Regions from separate parts of the Homo sapiens genome. Here all the other regions are linked to region 2. Evidence: fine-mapped expression QTL. A gene starts in region 2. Each other region holds a variant in brackets. All regions are shown on one strand. Distances are between the middles of the regions.

Evidence for each region. PIP is the estimated chance that this variant, and not a neighbour inherited with it, causes the effect.
Region 1: its variant is the best candidate, but not a certain one, in a credible set for the expression of SLC38A4 in skeletal muscle (GTEx, PIP 0.50).
Region 3: its variant is the best candidate, but not a certain one, in a credible set for the expression of SLC38A4 in nasal epithelium (TOPMed, PIP 0.50).

The regions. Positions count from the first base shown.
Region 1 is chr12:46,940,222-46,948,412 of GRCh38, forward strand. LOC124902924 (a long non-coding RNA gene) reads left to right here and starts at 1,269. Exons shown (of 2, transcript XR_007063285.1): 1 at 1,269-4,266; 2 at 7,457-8,191. The variant A/G (reference allele first, on the strand shown) is at 3,135.
Region 2 is chr12:46,821,152-46,829,342 of GRCh38, forward strand. SLC38A4 (solute carrier family 38 member 4) reads right to left here and starts at 4,846. Exons shown (of 17, transcript NM_018018.5): 1 at 4,752-4,846. RefSeq lists enhancers at 4,306-4,864, 4,865-5,422.
Region 3 is chr12:46,790,214-46,798,404 of GRCh38, forward strand. It overlaps SLC38A4 (solute carrier family 38 member 4), which reads right to left. Exons shown (of 17, transcript NM_018018.5): 3 at 2,740-2,970. The coding sequence starts at 2,858. Among named protein-coding and RNA genes, the nearest start is that of SLC38A4, 32 kb to the right of the region's middle. The variant A/G (reference allele first, on the strand shown) is at 4,086.

The DNA.
Region 1 (8,191 bases), 120 kb after region 2:
TATCCTGAGACTTTGCTGAAGTTGCTTATCAGCTTAAGGAGATTTTGGGCTGAGACGATGGGGTTTTCTAGATAAACAATCATGTCGTCTGCAAACAGGCATGGGCAAGGACTTCATGTCCAAAACACCAAAAGCAATGGCAACAAAAGCCAAAATTGACAAATGGGATCTAATTCAACTAAAGAGCTTCTGCACAGCAAAAGAAACTGCCATCAGAGTAAACAGGCAACCTACAACATGGGAGAAAATTTTTGCAACCTACTCATCTGACAAAGGGCTAATATCCAGAATCTACAATGAACTCAAACAAATTTACAAGAAAAAAACAAACAATCCCATCAAAAAGTGGGCGAAGGACATGAACAGACACTTCTCAAAAGAAGACATTTATGCAGCCAAAAAACACATGAAAAAATGCTCATCATCACTGGCCATCAGAGAAATGCAAATCAAAACCACTATGAGATATCATCTCACACCAGTTAGAATGGCAATCATTAAAAAGTCAGGAAACAACAGGTGCTGGAGAGGATGTGGAGAAATAGGAACACTTTTACACTGTTGGTGGGACTGTAAACTAGTTCAACCATTGTGGAAGTCAGTGTGGCGATTCCTCAGGGATCTAGAACTAGAAATACCATTTGACCCAGCCATCCCATTACTGAGTATATACCCAAATGACTATAAATCATGCTGCTATAAAGACACATGCATACGTATGTTTATTGTGGCATTATTCACAATAGCAAAGACTTGGAACCAACCCAAATGTCCAACAATGATAGACTGGATTAAGAAAATGTGGCACATATACACCATGGAATACTATGCAGCCATAAAAAATGATGAGTTCATGTCCTTTGTAGGGACATGGATGAAACTGGAAACCATCATTCTCAGTAAACTATCGCAAGAACAAAAAACCAAACACCGCATATTCTCACTCATAGGTGGGAATTGAACAATGAGATCACATGGACACAGGAAGGGGAATATCACACTCTGGGGACTGTGGTGGGGTGGGGGGAGGGGGGAGGGATAGCATTGGGAGATATACCTAATGCTAGATGACGAGTTAGTGGGAGCAGCGCACCAGCATGACACATGTATACATATGTAACTAACCTGCACAATGTGCACATGTACCCTAAAACTTAAAGTATAATAAAAAAAAATTAAAAAAAAAAAAAACCCCAAATCACAAAACAATTTAAAAAAAAAAAAAAAAACACCCGTATGGAGTATGTACAATATGCTCCCGTCTTTGGAAAGTATATACATATATGCCTAGAAAAACATCCAGAAACCTATTAGACAAATGTCAACTGTGGTTAATTATTGGGTGGTGAAATTGAGTTTTAATTTTCTTGTAATTTTTAATTTATGTTTATTTTACAATAAATGAACAGTAATTACAAATCTTTAAAGACTTTTGGAAGACCTTTTGGAAAAAAATTATTGCTGCTCTTGTGAGAACCACTGATAGATATTGTTTCAGTCCTTCTGCTCTGAGAAGTATGCAAGTTATGGTCATAGAAACTCTGTGGGCTACGAAAAAGTGCACATTAAGGTTATTCAAAGGGCTGGAGTTTATAAGGCACCAGCATAACCTTGCCACAAACAGGTTTACGCTTATGAAACAAATCTATCTAGGTGGATTCATCTTTTACTAAATATTTCCCTGTTGACACAGCTTTACTCGCCAATGTTTAATTGCTTTGTATAATTTGTATTAAGCACTATAACATTATGCTACACAGTACTTCAACCCATAACAAGACTTGAACCTGCAATAATGTCATTCCCAAGGAAGATGACCCAGGATTTTTGTATAGGTACCTCCACAGAGCATGGTGGTTAAGGAGGTTCTGTCATAGGCTCTGAGCCTGTGTAGAAATTAGCAGGCAAACCCTAGGTCATGATGGAAGTATGCATCCAGCAGAATGGAGAAGGGTCATTATGGCCTTCAACTGCAGACATTAACAAGTGTGTCCTAACCTGCTTCATTCCTGGCATGTGGGAACAGAACCTTGAAGATCTGGATTCAAGTCAAGCTTCTTGAATGTTAAATATGTAAACATGTAAAAATCTGGAATCCTTTATAGATTATTACATTTTAAAGCTGATCGTTTACATATAGAGCATTAAATTAAATAGGCACATTCTTTATATATAAACAAACAAACTCTCTAGTGATTTATTTTCTCACCATGGAATTTCAATTTCTGATGGATTTTGATGCACATATTGCATCATTTATATAAAAATTTCATTTGAAGGTGCCCATAAAATTTAAGCTGCAGGTGAACTATCAAGAGAATACGTGAAAGTCATTTACAAAATTAGAACGAGCCCAAGACAGGATGGAAAAACCCAAGCTTCTATAGATATTTTCCAGAATTTTTAGGGTTCAGGATGATCATGTTTAATTCCCAAAGCCGCAATTCCTAGCAGCATAGGAGCTCTCAAATATGCAGAAGGAAATGATTCAGAACTGAAAGAGGATAAGTCATCCAATGAATGGTAAGAATTAAGCCTAATGTCAGTAGGTGGCATGCATGCCTTCAATTATTTGACATACAGTTACTGAGCACCTGCTCAGTAAATCATAGGGCCCAAAGATAATTTCCTGGAGGAATGTGTGACTCAAGGCTATTTGGTCTGCCTGTGTCCTTCCTCTGTAGCTCATAAGCACTCTACATGTGCAAAGTCAAGTTTAAATGAAAGTCAAGGGGAACAGTGAGAAAAGAAGCGAGAAAGGTGCAGCATCGTGTGAGAGTGTGTGTGTGTGTGTGTGTGTGTGTGTGTGTGTGTGTGTGTGTTTGTAATGGAGTGAGAGGTGCCAGAAAAATTTAGCTTTCCCTTCTTTCCAGGTCTCTTTGCTTCAGGAGCTGGGGAAGTGTTGCAGTCATCTCCTTTTCCCTTTTTAGCTCTTCTTCAGTCCCCATGCCTTCAAATAACCTCTGGAGCTTGGAATAATTTATCTGATTAACTGTTCTCAGGATAACCGTGTGGGCATAAGAGGAAAGCAGGTTACTGATGCTACTGTGGCCTCCTAGCAACTGACACAATCAATGCTCTTTGGTTTGGGATGTTAGGCTGCAACCGTCCTTAGGGAGCTGTATATTTTCCAT[A/G]TGTGTTGAGAAGTATAGCAAAGTCTAAGAGAATTAAATGAGAGAATTTGGTTACCCTACTTTCTGGCTTGCTAAGGGTTAACTTTCTAAATTCCAAAATCCTTTTTGTGTCTCCTGTCATTAAAATTATAAAATAATTCATTTCATTTTTTGTCTTAGCAAATAGAGCATTTTGACAATAACATAGGATGTTGTGACTGATTAACATGATGCACACTGTAAAGAACTAAAGATATCAAAGGATGTTGACATTAAACGCACCTTATAAGTTGTTATGATTTTTCACTTGTAATTTTTTCCATAACATTAGACTATTGACTATGAAAGACAAAAATCTGATCACTTGAAGATTGTTATTTTTTAGATTATGATTATTCTAGACTTACTGCACTGTTAATGAACCTTTAGTAAATTTGATGCATAAGTGTTTCCTGGAGTACAAAAAATAAATGATTCTTTGATAAAGAAAGACTCAAAATGTTTTTCCTCATTTTTCCAGTCAAATTTTTTTTTTTAGTTCAGATCTTTGAAAAATATCCCACAAGTTATAAAGATTAATAAAACTGGACAAATATAAAAGTCTCATGATTGAAGTGACATTTTCACATAAATTTCATTAAAGGAACCATTAGGCTAAAGTGTTTTTATGTGTATTAAACTGTGCTATGTAAACTACCAGGGACTTTTTTTTTAAGCAGCCTAAATAAAAGAGAAATGGGTCAAGAAGAAGCTAATTAAGTAATTTATTGAAGGCTCAAGTATAAACAAGACAACAATCCAAGATTCTTATTTTGCAGATGGTATTTTTCACTGCTTCCTTCACCTCTTGGATGCTTCATATTTCACATTATTTTAAGAACAATTCACTCCCAGAGGATCATGGATGTACAGTCAGTTTGGTCTTGCTGAGTCAACGTGTGCACGTGTTCTCACAAATCTCCAGGCAACATTCACTGACAAGGCAGGGGGAGCTGTGCTCAGCATTTTCTTCAAATTGCTGTCTGAACAGTGGTGTGAAAATGATGTTCACTGTTGTTTGTTTCACCCATTCTCAGTACTGAGAGTTGTCAAAATTACTATTTCTGAGTACAGCATGTGTTCTAATTAAAGATAAAGTGTCTTTAAGACTCAGGTAGGTGTTTCATTAAATGTGATATATGCAGCAATGTATAAAGTATATCATTTATTCACCTTGAGATGCTATTAGGAATGTGCATTTGTGTGATGTCTAACTGATATCATATGGTGCACTAACACAGGGCTTTTCTATTTAAGAACCATTTCACTATGGGTTTGGGGAAAGTTATATATCTCAGGAAGTATTTAGCTTCCAATAGCTTTTCCTCTCTTTTTTAAGTGCAGTAATATATCTTTAAAACATATATGTATATGTATGCATGTATGTGTGTATATATACAGTAAATATATATACACACTATATGTATACTGAAATGTTATGCAGCACATAACATTTAAATATAGATACACACACACAGAGTAATGTGCTGTATAACATTTCAGTCAACAACAAACCACATGTGTGACATTCGTTCCATTTTAATGGAGCTGAAAAATGCCTGTTGTCTAGTGACATCGTAGCCATCGTAATGTAGCATGATGCATTACTCACTTATTTGTGGTCATGCTGGTGTAAACAAACCTACTGCGCTTCCAGTCGTATAAAAGTATAGCACATACAATTATGTACAGTATATGATACTCAATAATGATGATAAACAACACAACTATACTAGTGGTTTATGTATTTACTATACAGCTCCTCTTCAGTCCCCACCCCTTCAAATAACCTCTGGGGCTTGGAATGATTTATCTGATTAGTTGTTCTCACAATAACCATGTTAAGCTATATGTTGAACTATACTTTTTAACATTATTTTAGAGTTTACTCCCTCTACTCATGAAAAAAAGTTAACTGTAAAACAGCCTCAGGCAGGTCCTTCAGGAGGTGTTCCCGAAGGCATTGTAGAAGATGATAGCTTCATGTGTATTATTGCCCCAAAGACCTTCCAGTGAGGCAAGATGTGGAGGTAGAAGACAATGATATTGATGATCCTGACTTTGTATATGCCTAGACTGATGTGTATGTTTGCATCTTAGTTCTTAGCCAAAAAAAAAAGAAAAAAAAGGTTTAAAAAAATTTTAAGAAGAATAAAAAAAAGACATTTTAAAAATATAAAGCAGCAGCTGGGTGCTGTGGCTCATGCCTGTAATCCCAGCACTTTGGGAGGCCAAAGCAGGTGGACCACTTGAGTCCAAGAGTTTGAGACCAGCACAGGCAATATGGTGAAGGCTTATCTCTACAAAAAATACAAAAATTGGTGCACATCAGTAGCCCAGCTACTAAGGAGGATGAGGCAGGAGGATTGCTGAGCCCTGGTGATCGAGACTGCAGTGAGCTGAGATCACACCACAACATTCCAGCCTGGGCAAGAGAGACAAACTCTGTCTCAAAAATAAATAAATAAATAATACAATATAATAAATAAATACTGGACATGGGAAGGCGAGAGACATCTGGTCGACCTTAGACATGAGAAGGTGAGAGCCAGCTGGTTGACCTTAGACATGGGATTTATATATATATATATATATATATTTTATATATATGTGCATGTACATATGTGTGTATATATATGTACATACACATATATACAAAGAAGCTTATGGAACAAGGCTATAAAGAAAGAAAATATTTTTGTCAGCTCTACAATGTGTTTGTGCTTTAAGCTAAGTGTTATTACAAAAGATTCATAAAGTTAAAAAATGCAAAGGTTTATAAAGTAAAAATGTTACAGTAAGCTAACGTTAATTTATTATTGAAGCAAGAAAAAATTTTTTTATGAATTCAGTGTAGGCTAAGTGTTCAGTCTTTAGAAAGTCTGCAGTAGTGTACAGTAATGTCCTAGGCCTTCCTGTTCACTCACCACTCATTCACAGTGGAGCTTGCAGGACTGGAAGATGCTCTGGGTGAGTCAGTGATTGAGTAGTGAGTGAACATGAAGGCCTAGGGCATTACTGTACTTTAAATATTTATACCGTTTAAATCTTTATACCATTACTTTAAATCTTTTACACCATACTTTTGCTGTACCTTTTCTATGTATGAATATGTTTAGATTCATGAATACCCAGCATTGTGTCATAATTGCCTACAGTATTCAGTACAGTAGCATGCTGTACAGGTTTGTAGCCTAGGAGCAGTAGACTTTACCATATAGTTTAGGTGTATAGTAGGTAGGCTATACCATCTAGGTTTGTGCAAGTATACTCTATGATGTTTGCACAATGACAAAATCACCTAGTGATGCATTCCCCAGAACATATTCTTGCTATTAAGAGATGCATAATATTGTGTGTATATATAAATATATTTGCACACACATATGTATAAGAAGTAAATAGAATAAAACAAGATAGATATTATAAATACTTGGAGGTCATGCCACAGGAAATTTCTTCCAATAAATGAGAAGTGAAATTGCCTCTGGTAGTTAAATTTTAAATCAACACATTACTAAGATAGGCAATCAGTCCCCTTAAAGAAAAAGTATGGCTCCCAGGCTGTGGTGTATGGGTCATGAAAGACAGGATGCATAACTGACCAAGGGCTCTAGCTTCCATGCTCTGAAATCATTCGCCATGTTGTACTGAGGCCAAGCTTCCCATGGGCTGCTCCCAGCCATGATTGAGTGCAACAGAAACACTAAGGCAGATGCATTTCTGCAAGATAGGGCATTTCTACAGCCCACTTTGCCACAAGTGACCCTTCTTGCCCCACATCCTGCCCCCAATACCTTGATGAACCTTCCTCCAACTGTAAATGTCTAAGATGCTTCCTCCTGCCCTTCCCCTTTCTCCTTCCTTCAGGGTCAGGCTTGCATCATAGACCAATGACTATCCCAGCTTTCCTCAGCTCCCTCCTTTAATAAAATCCATGCATGTTTAATCCCATCTTGACATGTACTTCCCGGACTAACACACAGACCAAACTATAATTGTATCATTGATTAATACACTAATGTAGCTTAAAAATAAAACATGTAAAATAAAACAGTAACCTCTCAGAAAGAGATTGGTCGGCTCTGGGAGCTGTGAAAAAAGGTGCCAAGCAAAGCTGAACCTGCTCAGTTCATGCTTCTGTGACAGAGGAGGTGACAGCAATGTACCAGCCCAAACACTATCCTTGTTTTTGCAATGGATATATCTGGTGCCATAAAATATTTAGTTCATCCAGTAACACACCTTGTTCTGAGTTCATGCTTTCCAGATGATGTTGAGTTGACTTTTTGACTTCCTCCTAGGCCTATCTCCAGGGAGCAATGTATTAGTTACATGGATGTAGCCCAGAGGGAATTTTTGGAAATTTGGAGAACTGCATTCTAGAGACTCAAAACTGTGACTGCTGAGTGGACCATCTATGGGCAAGAGCAGAATCACTGAATACTGGAGGAGGGTTGCAAGGTGGCCTGGTTTCTGTGGCAGTGATCTGGTAGGTTCTGCTGAGGAAAACTGGATGGTGTCTGGCATGTCTTCAGTAAGTAATAAATGCTAGCAAGCACTTTTGTTATTGGATTATGGCTGGAATTGTCATCTAAAGGGAGAAACGTTAAGTTTTCTTTAAAATATTATTATGTTAGTTTCCTAAGGCTGCCATACCAACCACTAACTAGATAAGTTAAAGCAAAAGAAATTTATTCTCACTGTTTTGGAGGCTACAAGTCTGAAAGGAAGATGTCAGCAGGGCGGGTGCCTTTCGGGGGCTCTGGGGGAGAATCTGTTTCATGTCTGTGTCCTGGCTTCTGGTGAACATAGGCAATGCTTGGTGTTCCTTGGCTTGTAGATGCATCACTCCAGTCTCTGCCTCCAGCTTCACGTGGCCTTCTGCTTGTGTATCTCTGTGGCTTCACATGGCTGTCTTCTCATAGAAACACCAGTCATATGGAATTAGGGGTCTACCCCACTCCACTATGACCTCATCTTAACTTATTACATCTGCAAGGACCCTATTCCCACATAAGGTCACATTCTGAGGTATT
Region 2 (8,191 bases):
GCCTTTTAGTTTGATGTAGTACTGCGTGTCTATTTTTGCTTTTTTGCCTGTGCTTTTGGTGTCATATCCAATAAATCACTGCTAAGACCAATGTTAAAAAGTTTTTCCCTATGTTTTATCCTAGGAGTTTTACAGTTTCAAGTCTTACATTCAAGTTTTTAATCCATTTTTAGTTTTTTGTTGTTTATGATGTAAGATAAAGGTCCAATTTCATTCTTTTGCATGTGGATATACAGTTTTCCCAACACCATTTGTTGAAGAGGCTATGTTTTCCCTATTGTGTGTTCTTGGGACCCTTGTTGAAGATCAGTTGGCCATATATGTGTGGGCTTACTTCTGGGCTCTCTATGCCATTCTATTGATCTATCACTCTCTTTATGCCAATACCATACAGCTTTTGTTGTCTTGTTTGTTTTTTGGTACCATATTTTTTCAGTTACTATAGCTTTGTAATATATTTTGAAATCAGGAAGTATGATGGCTCCAGCTTTGTTCTTTAATAAAATCACTTTGGCTATTTTGAGTCTTTCATGGTTCCATATAAATTTTATGATTATTTTTCCTATTTCTGTAAAAAATGCCATTGGGATTTTGATGAGGACAGCATCGAATTTGTAGCTCACTGTGGATAGTATGGGCATTTTAACGATGTTAAGTCTTCCATTCCATTAACCCAAGATGTGTTCCCATTTATTTTCTGCTTTAATTTCTTTCATTTACCTTTTATAGTTTTCAGTACATAGGACTTTTACCTCTTTAATTACGTTCATTCCTTAGGAATGTTACTATAAACGTGATTGTTTTGTTAATTTCCTGACAGAATAGTTCATTGTCAACATATAGAAATCTAACTGATTTTGTATGTTGATTTTGTATCCTGCAACTTTACTGAATTTGCTTACTAGATTCAAGAGTTTATTGTGGGGTCTTTAGGATTCTTCTACATGTAAGATCATGAAATGTATGCATATGAAATGTGCATGTATGCACCACACCCCTTAATTCGCTTTTTTGACATCTTTGGGAGGGTGTTATTTTGACACACACGTACACATAGGGTTCCAATCACTTAACAAAGGGTAATTATTTAAGATACAGTCACAGGAATAGAATAAAGCTAGAATCTCTTACCAAAAATAAAATCTGTGCCAAACATACATATTTTTATGAGACCTAAGATGGGAAGACTCCTTCTATTTGTTTCTGTCTCAGTGGGTGGGTAACTGGAGATTCTGTCTTCCTAGTTGATAGGCATAAAGGGACCCTACCCCTTCTTATGACAGCAATTAGGGTTGAGAGACAACTTACTCAAAGACCAAAGCTAATAAGGTCCTGGCATGATAGCTGAGCCAAAACTCACAACCCACTGTCTAACTTCTGAGCCCAGCTCCTAAGACAGTCCATCACCACTGGGCACCTACTTTATGTTGAACATGATTCAAAAGATAGGATCCCTGTCTCCAAGACACGTGGAAATGAACTGGAGAGCTGAGGCAAATAGAGTAGGTTTTGTATAGGAAGAATGGTGTGACTTCAGAGACAGAAGAGTGGATTCCAGGCAGGGGACATGGGATCAGAAGTTTGACCTTGGAAACAACAAACAAGAGTCTACTTCAGCTAAAATAGAATGTTTGTATAGAGTTTGGCTGAGGTTGATCTTGACTACCAGATTAAGAAGTTTAAACTTTAAGGAATTTTGGTATAAAGAATAATGGAAAGCATTATATTTGGTTTAATTCTTCAATGTGGGTACCATGATAATATTATGAAATAGTTTTAAAGTAATTATGCAACATACACAGTTTAACATATAGTTTAAAAGTAATTATACAATGCACATAAGGCATTTCTATTTTACTTTTCTTTCAAAAACTGCATTACTTCCCTTCAAAGAAAAAGCTTTAAAAAATCAGAAAACAACCCTCCCATCACCCTGTAAAAAACAATGCCTGCAATGTTGAGCATCATAGTCAATATATTTACATTTCTTATCACACCTTCCTAATGACTGTCATCATTAGTCAAATAAGTAAACAGTATAAGAGCGGTATGCAAAATTCAGTGGGTCTTTTGTTTGGTCTCGTGACTTACAGAGAAGTGTTCATTCCCTCAAGTTTATAGGATTAAATTATCTGCCCTGCCCACACACACAGGAGATATGACCCAGAAGAACAGCCTGCAAAGCAATGTGAGATATCTAATGTTTACTTAAAATAAAATACATTATAAAGACAGCACAAATGATTCTATTCCATTTCAAAAGACTCAGAAAAGCAGATCTACCTATAAAAAGAGTTATAAATTATTTTAGCTGTGATGTTTCTTCATGTTGAGACTTTGGAACCACCATTGCCAGCTACACTCCATCCTTTCCCAAGATTTAGGACAAGGAATATTTTTCTGGTAACAGAAATCATTAAAACAGAGACTCAGGGCAATGCATTCAGTTAAACTCAAGTCTAGTCAGGGCTCCAGACTGACTGTTTCGTTCTGTGAATTGACAATATGTCTCTGAAATTCCAGAATGTGAAATTCCGAAACCTCAACGGGATATTTACAAATGCTTTCAGATAGTAGTGGATATTTTGTTCTCTTCTCTCTTTGGAGGTGGGAGGAATTCTTCAATGGGTACGGGCTGAAGGGAGGGATTTAGCCTAAGCCTTCCAGGTACTATTCAGAAGTGATGCATTTCCCTTGGCTAGTTACAGCCTCCAGTTTCAAGGTTTCTCATGCTTGTGAGCATGCAGATAAAGAATAACATTTCATTTTAAAACCTGATTTGAAGGGACCTCTGGGAGACCTCCTCCCAGCAGCAGATGAGGTGGAGGTGAAAGTAGTGTAACACTGACAGTCTCTGAACCTGAACATCTGCCCTTGATAGTTGCCCTTGGGCTAAAGATGCTGTTTTGGGCTCTGGGTGACCCCTGTCAAACCCAATAGCTACTCACTGTCATTTCCAGCCATGCCACTGTCCCTCAGTTGGCAGTATGTGTCTGAGCATAGATAGGCAGGGAACTTCCGATTGCAGAGGCATTGTTTTGATTCATTTCAAGAACTCTGAAATGTCTTAACTAAGGTAAAGTAACAGATTACTGTACCAATGTAAAAATTTTAAAAGGTACTAGATTTTATACCTTATTGTCTAAGTACATACTTTTTTTCTGTCCTGTTCCTTTTCTCCTTTCCAATCCTCCAGTGTTTTAAATGAAGATGGAGTGTATACATCCTTTTGCCCTAACACAAACAAATGTCATTTTGAAAATAAAAATATTCACATTTCGTCCTCACACTTTTCACCTCTTCAAGTGCCCTCAAGTACCTCCTTAATCCCACTGAAGTTCCAAGTTTCACTGATTTAAAAAGCAAAGGAAAATGTGCAGCACTAGATAGAGTCAAACAACTGGAATGCTACTTAGCATGAAAAACGACCAAACTATCCATCTACTCAATAACTTGCATGGATCTCAAGAGCATCAAGTTGAGTGTAAAAAGAAAAAAACTCAGTCTCAAAAAGATCACATGCAGTATGATTCCATTTATATAATAGTTTCAGAACGATGAAAATATAGAGATGGAAAACAAGTGGTTGCCGGGGTAGCGAGGAGCAGGTGGAGATAATGATAAAGAGGTGGAACAAGGGAGATCTTATGCAAGATACAGGTGGAAGTTCTGCATCTTGACAGGCCTATAGTGGGTCAGATTGCACAAATCTACACATGTGGCAAAATGGCATAGAAACTATACACACATTATTCCAATGTCAGCTTCCTGGGTTTAATATTATACTAAAGTGTGTCAGATGTAACCACTGGAGGAAACCAGGTGAAAGGTTTAGGTGGCCTCTCTGTGCAACTGGATGCAAATATATAATTACTTTAATATACAAAGTTTAAATGTCAGCTTCCTGGGTTTAATATTGTACTAAAGTGTGTCAGGTGTAACCACTGGAGGAAACCAGGTGAAAGGTTTAGGTGGCCTCTCTGTGCAACTGGATGCGAACCTATAATTACTTTAATATACGAAGTTTAAATGTCAGCTTCCTGGGTTTAATATTGTACTAAAGTGTGTCAGATGTAACCCCTGGAGGAAACCAGGTGAAAGGTTTAGGTGGCCTCTCTGTGCAACTGGATGCAAATTTATAATTACTTTAATATACAAAGTTTATATATATATATATATTCCTTACAGATGCCTCTGTACAGAAAGAATAATGAAATATAGCATAGTGGCACATGCCAAAAATGTGTCAGATACCTTCTTTAAAGCATACTGTTACTAAAGAATTACTAAAGTATTGCTTCAAAAGATAAGAAGGAATAAAACAGTAATGACTGCATTCTCAGGACTGCAATAAAATAGCTCTGTTTTCCAGTGTTCTCAACCTTTGGATTGCTTTTCAGGCATTCACAAAGCAAAGTGGGAAACACGAACCCTTTTAGTTAGATCCCTTTAACAATAGAGGTCAGTTTGGTCATACGGTTTTAAAGAATACTCTGCATCCTTGAAACACATTCCTCCCATTTGGAAAAATTCCAGAAACAAGACTATAGCCTGAATAGCACTATCTAGCATGCACGAAACGCTTCTTAAAAGCAAGGACTGCCACAGCCTCTCTTCTTAATGAATCCCTCCCACCCACCTCGTTTTTCAGTGCTTTGCAGTATGTCTTTTTCTCTTTCCCCTTCCACGTTCGTCTCACCCACTCTCCTGGACCCTCTAACCAAGTTGCCACGCAAAAGCAGCAAGCAAACCTGTGTGAGTGGGGTGTCCCGAGGCGGCAGCCTCCCGCGATCCTCCGTGCACGCCACCACCCGGCTCATGCTCCAGGCGCTGCGCACACCCCAGTGGCCGCCCAGGACGTGCGGTCACTGGAGAGCCCCCAGCCACGCCCCTAGATGCTGCTGGGCGGCCTGCAGGAGTACCAACATTGCAGACAGAACAGCGACCTATCCCGCCGTAAGCCAAAGTTGCCTGTTGGTAAATTGCGTCTTTTTTCTTTTTCTTCAACATCTTTATAGTACCGCGAGTGTACCCAGTGTTATTAAATTATGCCAAAACAAAGAGCAAAGTCCCTGCCCTTAGGAGTATGCAGTGTAAAATGAATAAATGACGCAAGGCAAAATGACAGGACAAACACAGGGTGGGTAGAAAGAGTTACGAGTGAAAGGGAAGGTAGAAACAATAAGACTTTCACTGGACCAAAACATGGAAAGGCTGTTAGGGCCCCAAATCTTCATAGCAGATTATAGAAATGAAGAATTGCGATAATATCTATAGTAGCAATCCTATTTTATTGAGTGTTTACGTGCCATGCAGTATCATCATCACAATAATTCTATACCATAGCTGTTGTTTTAAAAAGTGCCAGATATGATTCTAAATGTTTTACAAATATTCACTAATTTGATCCTCCTAAAATCCCTGTGAGGTTGGAACTATTATTTTCCCCATTTCAGAGATGAGTGAAGCAATAAAGTGGACTGACTTGCTCAAGGTAACTCAGGCAAAAAGTGGGAGAGCCAAAATTGGAACCCAGGAAGTTGGATGGTAGAGTCAAGATCTGAGCCCAGGAAGCCCAACTTTATGATGGCATTAGGATTCATATCCACATTACCTTGCCTACCAAGCTTATACTCTTAATCATGTGCAATCATGCAAATTAAGTAAACAATTTAAAAGTATTTGTATTGACTATAAACAATGCACAAAATCATTTTGCAAAGGCCTTTAGTAGGTCCATGAAAAAAATGTTTATTTGAAGAATATTTTCTGTCAAAAAACAGAAAGAAACATGTTTTCTTTCTTCCTTCATTCATTCAACAAACATGTACCAGTGTCTGTTTATACCAGGCACTGTGTTAGGCATCAGGGTGACAGTAGTGAACAAAAGAGACAAAATTGAGGGGAAACAAGGGAACTGAGATAATAGTCATTTTAATCATGAATACACATTAGATTTATTGGGAACAATAGGCAGAAATAGCCAACAAGAAATAATCATATACAGGGAATGACATTCTCTGGGCTGGACTGTCTGGCATGAGTATTATTTAGTTCTTTTTTCCATCTCCTCTCCTTTTTCCTTTGTTTTAGTTATGATAGAGGAAATCACGCTATCGAAAAACATTTCGTATGGACATTTGCTAACATTTCAAATAATGCTTTGGGTGGTAGAAGTAATTGAATTCCCTTCCTAATAACATTATGACCAAGAGTATTTTACAAGCATGGATATGGTAAAGAGGTATGCAGACCTCTGAGCTTGGAATAAAAACCTGGAATAATAGATCCTTACAAAACAAAAGTTGTCAAAGTCTGTTATGAAAACCCAGGATCTTGACTGGCATAAACATCTACTAAAAAGATAAAAGGATAGCATTTGTTACTGTCATTCAATTCCCTACATCACCTTTTAAAAATACATTTGTACTTCCTGACTCTGCTATAATATACTAAAATGAAAAATATAGCCATTAAAAACTAAAATCAGAAGAGAAATCCCCTCCACCTCTCCCCTCATAAAAGCATAGAAGAACATTTGTTTGGATTTTGTTGTATGTTTGTGTAAATTTTATCTATGCTAAAATAGAATATGCCCTTGAGAACCAGAAAAATAATTTGGTTTTCCCTCAAATGGAAAGATAAGACTTTGTTGTCTTATCTTTCCATTTGAGCACTGGTTTTAAATCCTAACATTAAAAGCAATCAAAAAAGCTGTATGCTTTCTATTATGGGGCCATAATAAAATAATAAAATGTATTGCTAATTCCTATGTTCAGTTACTTTGTTCTGTTAGCACAGGTAACTTTCAAAATTCAGGGGAGGGGCAGAGCTAAGGGACACTTGCAGAGAGAATGTGCAAGGATCTCCCTGACCACACCTCCCTCCCCAGCCTCCTCCCAAGCATTCTCTACTGACTAAGAGTACTGAACTCTTAAATTCCTGAACTGACTCCCTCCTTATCCTTTCTCAGTCTGGTCTCTCCACTGAGAGTCCTTTCCTCACATCCTCCAATTCTTTGCCTGGCTAACTTTTATTTCTACTTCAAAACCTTGCTCAGGTACCACCTGGTCTTGAAATGTTCTCTGACCCCTTTCCTAAGCCAGGTTCTCTGGTAGAGTATTCAAATCTGATTTTTCCTTTTTTTTATTTTTATTTTTGTTTGTTTTGTTGGTTGGTTGTTTGTTTGAGATGGAGTCTCGCTCCGTCGCCCAGGCTGGAGTGCAGTGGCATGATCTTGGCTCACTGCAACCTCTGCCTCCTGGGTTCAAGCAATTCTCCTGCCTTAGCCTCTCGAGTATCTGGGACTACAGGCGCACGTCACCACATCCAGCTAATTTTTGTAATTTTTAGTAGAGATGGTGTTTCACCATATTGGTCAGGCTGGTCTGGAACTCCTGACCTCAGGTGATCCACTCTCCTCAGCCTCCCAAAGAGCTGGGATTACAGGCATGAGCCACGGTGCCCAGCCTTTTCCCTGGTTTTTAATCATGCTGTATTGCAAATGTTTCCTTATCTATTCTTTCCTCCAGTAGACTCATTCATTGTTCCACAAATATTTCTTGAGCACCTGGTATTTGCCCAGCACTGTGCTAGGTGCTAGGAAGATAGGAATAAAAGAAACTCCCTAATATAGTTCTTTGAAGATAGTAACACTTGATAATTATTTATGGAATGAATGAGTGAAATTAGGTCATTATATACACAGTGGAAGAAAGAACTAAGAGACATGAAAGTGATTCTGTTTTTCCATTTCTCCTATCTCTCACACCATACTGTGTTATGTAACACATTTCTAACACCCTTGTTTCCTTAAGTTTTTGTTCTCCTCCCTCTGGTTGTCTTTATTTTACTGCTGTCTTTATTGCAACAAGCAGGAGCTTTTGCATAGGATGAATTTTATTCTAATATCAGCATTGTTACTTACTAGCTTTGTGACTCTTGGCTCTTTCCTTAACCTCTTCAATTTCCTGTCTGTAAAACAGAGATAACAAATACCTATAGAATAGAGTATCATGTGAAGATTAAATGAGATTCACATTAAAGGGCTTAGTATAAAGACTGGCTCTTAAAGCACCTTTCCTTTCACTTGTCCCTCCCCTACTTCTACCTCTTATCCTTCCTGCAGAACATCATCAGGGCAGTAGTGGCTTGCAAGATGATTTCAATTGATAGGTGGAAGCACATTTTT
Region 3 (8,191 bases), 31 kb before region 2:
TTTTGAGAATAGAAAACAGTATGAGATGTAGATAGAAACAGCACACGAAACCACAAAGTTGTATGTGCTTTTCTAGAACTCAAGGCATAAATAGCTCTGAGTACACAAGTTAAGAACATTTCCTAGCCTTCTCCCCATATTTCTCACAGAAAGCACAATGCCCTCAGTTGTTGCCTCTTTCCATTTCCATTCACCCCCCACCCACTGCCCACCACTCTTTTGTGGTTTACATTAATGGTCTGTAATTAATGTACCTGCTATGTGAAGACTGGTACATAATGTTCACAGTTGGAGACTGAGATGACAGGATAAAATGAAGCCTAAAATGGGCCTGAGGACTATAAAAACAAAAGTGCCACCTAGAATTTAAACTCTGGAATCTTTATTTTAATCAATAAACTAAAATCTGTATTCCATAGTAGTTTTTAAAATTGAGAATTTGAAAGTAAACAGATTTTCTTTCTTTGAGGCATTTGCATGTTCTTATTTTGGCATGAGATGAGTTGTAGTCATTTAACATGCCAAGATTGTATAAAATAGATGAGAAATGTCCCCAGTATGTTAAATGTTTTGATACCAAACCCAGCATGTATTGAAAACACAAGTATAATGATCACAAATAAATACATTATGTTGAATTTCTCAAAAATTTACATTTAAGGGTTCAATCCAAACCACACATAGATAAAACCCATCTCTTTAAACTGATTTTAAAAACTGCAAAATGATGTCCTATGTTTAAGCCAGGAGATAAAAGGTAAGTCACTGTGAGTGGTTCGGAACACATTGCATGAAGCTTAAGAAAAGCATTCATGCTCTTTCTACTCTGGCTTTTGAGGATCAAGTGGAATGACACTATGACAGTTCTTAGGAGGGTGTCCCCTTTAACTCTGTCAACCTCGGCAGAGCTCATATTTGTGTGCATGCCTTTCAGAAACATCCTCAGGTTTGAATCAATTTACTGAGGGTAATGCAGTGAAGGAGAAGTAATAAAAAAGTATTGAATGTCATCTATATTCTGGTCACCCATCTCATCCTTGAAAAGCAGCTGTTGGTTTGCCATTTTACATTTTCCATTGAAGCTCAAAGAGGACAAACAGCTTCTCTAAAGTCAGGCAACTACTCTGCAGACTCCAAAGCCCTGTCTTCTAGCACCCTAGTGTTTCTTCAAGGGTCACCTAATTTAGAAAATGCTATAATTTACATCTCAGTGGCCTCTCTAGTCCGACATCCCTAAAGTTCATTGCACTGAGCTACTTGAAGGAAGAACGGTAGTTTCTCCTGATGGATTTTCCTGGGTGTTGTAAATAAAATGAGAAGTCTTTGTTTGAGCACAATATTCTCTATTTCACGCCTAGATTTGGTCAAAAATTCCCTTCTGAGCATCTTAAATCATGTACAATTTGATATAACATTTTGTGGGAAATCAATTGACTTATCAAATAACTATTGTGCACTCACTATGCACCAGACAATGTGGCAGGTGGTGGGACCACAGAGGCCATTAACCTGTAGTAGTGGCGTAATTAACATCTGCACAGGGAGAGGGTACATGAAGGAGGGGCAGTCACTTCTACATGGGGGAGTAGAGTAATTTGGAAAAGGCTGCATAGGAGACCTGATGTTGAGCTGATTCTTGAAGGATGAGAGGTGTCAACACGGAGAAAGGGGGAGCAGGTGACTGATTCCAGGCAGTTGGAGCAGAATGAGTGAAGGCAACAAGTAACAAATAGGGAGAGGGCAAAAAACAGGACAGGAGGGGCAGGTCAAGAACAGATCACAAAGGACCTTACGTGCCCAGCAGTGTGTGTAATCTACTTTCTCTTATGGCTATTGGAGAGGTGCAGAAGGGCTTTATCTAAGGATGGAAATTGATTCAATTTGCAATTGTAAGAGATTGCTCTTGCAGGAGTGTAGAGGGCTAGACAGAGGAGAGCAAAATGTAAGACAGGGAGAGAAATCAGGGCTCTCTCCCTGTCTCACATTTAATGTAGGCCTAACGTAAGACCACAGTAGAATGGGTACAGAAAAGTAGGTGTATTTGAAGCATTAATAAGGTCAAACCAACTGGATATGACTGACCGTTGGCTATGTGGGTCAAAGTTTACACCTAGGGGCTTTTGAGTGAGTTGCTACATGATAGCAGTGATTTTCACTAGGATGGGGATTACTAGAGGAGGAGCAGGTTTTGGAGGGAAAGATAGGAGTTCAGTATTAGACATTACAGGTTTAACTTTATAAATGAGGCAATTTAGACACAGTAATGGTCCAGTAGAGACGTGCAGTAGACATTCAGATATAATTATCTGAAATTCAGTAGAGAAACTTAACAGGCTGGGTATATGGCATATATTTGGAGGGTGAGGCCATAGTAGTTGTGAGTGAGCTTGCCCAGAGGATACTTTTAGAGAGAAAAGAATCCCTACAGAAACCAGGAGGTGTAGCAACATTCAAAGAGGAATCTGAGAAAGATAAGAGGAGCAATAGGCTAAAATAATTAAAATTATTACACATTATTAATGGAGACAAAGACATTGTAACCTCAATTCTAAATCAGTCACAAAAGAGATTGACATTATCACTGTATTTCAGGACCAGGGAATTGATGTGCTAGCATCAATATCATTGTTATCACAAATTTACCTGTAATAAATCCAGTTCTTCCCATCAAGACCCTGTTTTCCATGTCCACATCCTGTCTTATTTTTCCATGGAACATAGTAATTTTTAACCCCATACCTGCTCATTGCTGCCTTTTCTGAATTTCCTATCCCGATGTAGCTATCTGGAGCACTTTCTCCACTGCTGCTCTCATCATCTGGTTCGATGTTGACATTTCTCAGTTCCATGGGATCCATTTGAGCTGTCAGCGCTTTCTTGTCCACACACAAGCCCCTTCAGTGTAAATAATATACTGTACCTTCAGCTTAAGGTTCTTCCACTTTGTGTTGATGTTCAGAACACTCTGTTCTGCAAACAGAACACAACATACATCATTATAATTTTATTTAAATGAAATAAGTGAATATGAATCATCTACATTTTGTATGCTCTCTGTAAAAGGGAGGAAGGAAAGAAACTCCTGAAAACTTTACATAAGAAAATCCTGAAATGTTCCTTTACCCAATACAAGAAAGGAAGAAATGGAAGAGAAGAAAGGAAATTACTAATAATTGCTAAATTAGCAGATATTTATAGAGTGCCTATGTATAATGAAAATGGCAGGTTTTACTAGTCACTATGGAAAAAAAAAGAAATCTTAAGACATGGCAGCAGTCTTCAAGGAAATTTAGGTATTTGTGAGTGGGATACATGTTTTAAAAGAAAGGAAGACAAAAGTAAATTGTTGACAGAGGAAGGTCTACCAAGGCAGAATCTACCAGTGTCTCTACTAGCAATAACTAGAAAGAAAATTACTGCTTTAATTTAATTGGACATGAAAGAATTAACACCACCAAATGCTTGATAATATGCAACATAGGTGAGGATCAAGTTTAGGAAGTAACTTTCTAGGCACTTGGATCCTGAAGCCAAAGTTAAGAATAGTAACAAAAGAAAGTTCAGATTTACCTCTGGGTCAGCATTACTCATCATCTGTGTCAAATTAAAATGTATTTTAACAACAAAGAGATCTAGATTTTAGCCTCTGCTCTGCCTTTAATTCATTGGATCTCAGCAGAAGTCATTTAACATTTGGGGACCTCATTTTCCTCAATTGTATAGTGAAAAGGGGTGGACTGGCATTGTGTTTTTGAAAAATGCCTTGAATCTACTATATGTAGTTGATATAATTTCTTCTGAAATTCTTACCATTAGATTCATTCAATTATTGTTGAACCATCGTATTAGGAGAAACACTATCATTCTTGAAAAGTGTGGTCATGACATGTGCAATACCCATTTGATAAGGAAATCTTGAGCAGAGAAACTAACATAAAAATTGCTCCAGAAGTCACAAAATGTGCTATTCCTCTGACAAACAGAAACTACCACATGGGAATACCTCCACAACCCAGTGCCATGGCAGTACTTTTTTGAAAGGCAACTCACACTTGAGAAAAGTTCACATCCTCAAATTACAAAAC[A/G]TATAGAACACACATGGAAACTCACTAGCAAGAGTGCCAGTAGGCACAAGAAATGATAAAATTCACATCTAAGGAACTACAAATAACAAAGCAATTTAAAAGGGACTTTTACATTAAATTAATAAAAAGAAAGACATTTTGAAAGAAAACATTCAAAATAAGAGAATAACTTTCACAGAATAAAAACATTATAAAGGAATATAAAAGGAGAACAGGCTGTTGCAAAAAGAGTCAAAAAAAGGAATTCTTAAAAAAAAGAAAAAAATAGAATCATTGAAATTTAAAAAAACTCAGCTGAAGGAAGACTTATAAAATTGAAAGACAGATCTGTGGAAATCACTCAAATTATAGCATGAAGAGATTAAAAAAAGAAAAATACAAATAAGAAGTTAAGAGGAATGGGGAAAAAATAAGAATTACAAGTTCAAATATACACTGATAGTCATTCCAATATAGAGAATTGTGAGACTAGGGTGAGACAAAACAGAAAGAGATAATGGCAGAGAATTGTCTAGAAATAAAGAAAGCAGTTCTCAGAATTTAAAAAAATAGCACACAGTGTTTTAAGCAGGAGGAACAAAAATGAAACTATTATTAATATAAGGCAGCCTAAATGTATATACATAAAAGATGAAAAGAAGCAGGTTAAAAGCTAAGAGAGAATAGAAGTAAGACATGCATATGGGTAAAAGAAAAAAAAAAGAAACTCACTAAATGAGTACAAAGGTTTTCCTCATTCTTCACACAGTACCAGTCTCACTTCCCAGCAGCAACCACTATTGACGGTTTCTGTTTTTAGCTTGTTACTTAAAGTTAGCCATTCTAGATCTGAATAATTCACTAAAGCTTTTTTGACTTGGTTTACTGATTTTAGACTGGTTACCCATAAAAAATAAGGACATTAGCATACTTTTTCTTTCTTTCCTTCCTTCTCCTACACTCCTAATTATTTTAGTTAATAAAATACTTTTACAATTTGAGAATCATAATATTTTCATCTTGTTCTGTGAAACAAGTGTCATAACTTGCCTGTAGGTTGTTTCTAAACATGGAAAACCAATAAGCAGCAATTACAGTATTATCACTGTATAAATAGTATGCCCTAAAGACAAAGTGGTGTATTTGACTACATAATAAGTGAAATATAATTCTATATTACCAAAACTTTGAAAGCAAATTTTCTATGCTCTTTCTCATTCTGAATGGCTTCCTCCTCCAACCTCTGAGTCTTGCTCAGCTGCTAGTTTCTTGAACGGCATTCTATCTTCTTTCTTCAGTTTATTTTGCATTATGCTAAAATAATGCCTTGAATAACTTTTTTCACACAATGAGCCTATGTCTGTAAATAGAATTTCTGAGTTGCTTCATGTTGGAAAATTCTTTATTTTGCCTTCAAACTTTGTTAATTGTTTGAATTCTAGATTCAGAAGCATTTTCCTTCAGAATATTGAAGAAACTTCTCTCTTCTAGCTTCTATTGATGAGTCTGGCTCTTATTTCTTTATAGATAATTTATCGATGGTTTTCTGAGGATTTCAGAATTTTTATCCTTATCCTTTCATCACGACGTGACTAGATGTGAGTCGCTTTTAAAATTCATCATACTCAGCATGCAGACGGCCCAATCAAAAGGCTTGTCTTTCTTCTATAGAAGACACATTTTCTAAAAATAAAAAAAGTTCTACTATTTAAAAAAACTATTTCTTCCCCTTTGTTTACTCCTGAAACTTTTATTAATCAGGTATTGGACCTCTTGATCCATATTGCTAAGCTTTTCTGTTTATGTTCGATCTGTTCATCTTACTGCTCGATGTTCAGGAATATTTCCTCAATGTCACATCCAAAATAACAAATTTCACCTTCAGCTATATCCGTTTCATTTTTCAACTTGTCAGCTATTTTTCTCAATCATGCTCTTAATTTCTAATAATTTGCTCTTATCCTCTTTCTCTTTTTTCATATCACTTTTTTTGTTTTATGGATACTATATTTTCTCAGATTTTTCTAAGGATATTGATGTGAGGTTTTCAGAAGTTCCTTTTGTTCCCTAAATTATACGTTTCTTCTGAAGTTAGTTATTCTGTTTGTTCCCTTTGGTCCTTCTCTTCCATGCTGCTCATTTTCCTTAGTTTCAAGTGTTCCTAGGTTATCTGTTCATATTTGTGAATGACAGAGCGCATCGATTAGCTTGGACAGCTGGTACTCAGAGCTTCTCTGAAATTGTGTGGGCCCATTTCACTGATGGGCTGCTCCCTTGTAGGTTCTGTGTAAGTGGCTCTTCTGCTGCTTGTCTGTGGGAGGAGCATCCCACTCCCAGACACAGCTGCCACTCTAGGAGCAGTTACTCCGGGGGTGAAGCATTTTAATGTATCTTCTTTTTGGTAGAGCTTCCATTCCTGTTTGTTATACCTCTTTGTCTGCAGTAGAGGCCCTAATGCTTATCCTAGCATCCTCCCTTGAGGTTTCTTTACAGATTGGATCACAGCTTTATCTTATAGTCAAAAATGGTATCCCAAACAGACCATGATGTCTAAACTGAGGTTCCTTGGTGGATACCTGATCACTGGTTGCCCATGATCTATGCCTCCTCTTTGTCTTTATCGACTTAACTTGAAGCTACTGCAGGGCTCCCTATGGGAAAAGCACACTTATCTTGGTTCCTTTTCTCTTAGATTTTCCAACCCTATCTTCTTTCTGCCTTCTAGGAATTCTCAAAAATTTCTATTTGCTGATGACACCACTATTGCTTTTCACAGTTTTTGTGGTTTGTCCTTTTAAAAATATGTGACATTTCATTGCTTGACTTCCTTAAAGCTAGATCCTAAGCCCCATTCTTCCAGTCCACTCCCAAGACTTCATATAACGTGATGGTTAATTTTATATGTCATTGTGGCTGCATTAAAGGATGGGAAGATAGCAAGTAAAACTTTATTTTGGGGTGTGTCTGTGAGGGTGTTTCTGGAAAAGATTACCATTTGAATCAATAGACTGAGTAAAAAAGGTCCACTCTCACCACTGAAGGTGAGCATCCTCCAAACACTCCAGGTTCCACATAGAACAAAAAGGCAGAGGAAGGGCAAATTTACTGTCTCTGCTTGAGCTAGGACATCCATCTTCTGCTGCCTTCTCCTGCCCTTGAACATTGGAGCTCCTGCTTCCCAGACCTCGTAATTCTGATACTTATACCAGCAACATCCTGTTTCTCAGCCTTTGGCCTCAGATTAAATTATACCACCAGCTTTCCTGGTTCTCCAGCTTGCAGATGCTGTACTTTGAGATCTCTTGGCTCCATAATCATGAAAGCCAATTCCCATTATAAATGTCATCTTATATCTATATACATCTATACCTGTCTGTCTATTTATCTCCAGTTGGTTCTGTTTCTCTGGAGAACTCTGATGAATACATATACCAAAGACTCCTCAAGTTACATCAGCCTAGGCTTCTCCTGGGAACTCAAGTTCCATGTGTCCAGGGGCCTAAATGTCATCTATATATCTCAAAGGCAGTTTAAATTCAATGTGTTCAAAGTCTAACTTGTGATAGGCCCTCTTCTTCCAATGTTTCCATTCCAAAGAATGTTGTCACCATTTATCCAATTATTCAAGTCAAAAGCATAAGAGCCTTCTATTATAAATTTTTCTTTCTTACCCTCCACATCCAGTTCTTTACAAAGTCTGGTTGACTTTTACAATAAACTGAAGTATTTCTCAAGTTAGTCTTTTTCTCTTCATTTCTTTCACCTTCACTCTTGTCCAAGCTACCATCATGTCTACTGTAAAAATCTCCTAATTGATCTTCAATTCTCTTTTGCCTCCCCTAACCACCCCCACCATTCATTCTTTACCCAATACCCAGAGTGATCTTTGAAACATAACAGCAACAACACAGATCATATCATTTATTTGCTTAAAACCCTTTAATGTCTTCCCTTTACTCTGAGGATAAAGTCCAAAATTCTCAACATGCCTGGTAAGATTCTGCCTGGTCCACCCACCTCTCTGGTCTCATCTCCGTCCACACTCTCCTCACCTTAGTGTTCTAGCTACACTAGTCTTTCCATTCCAGAAATCCACCGTGTTCTCTACATCTCAGGTCATTTGCACA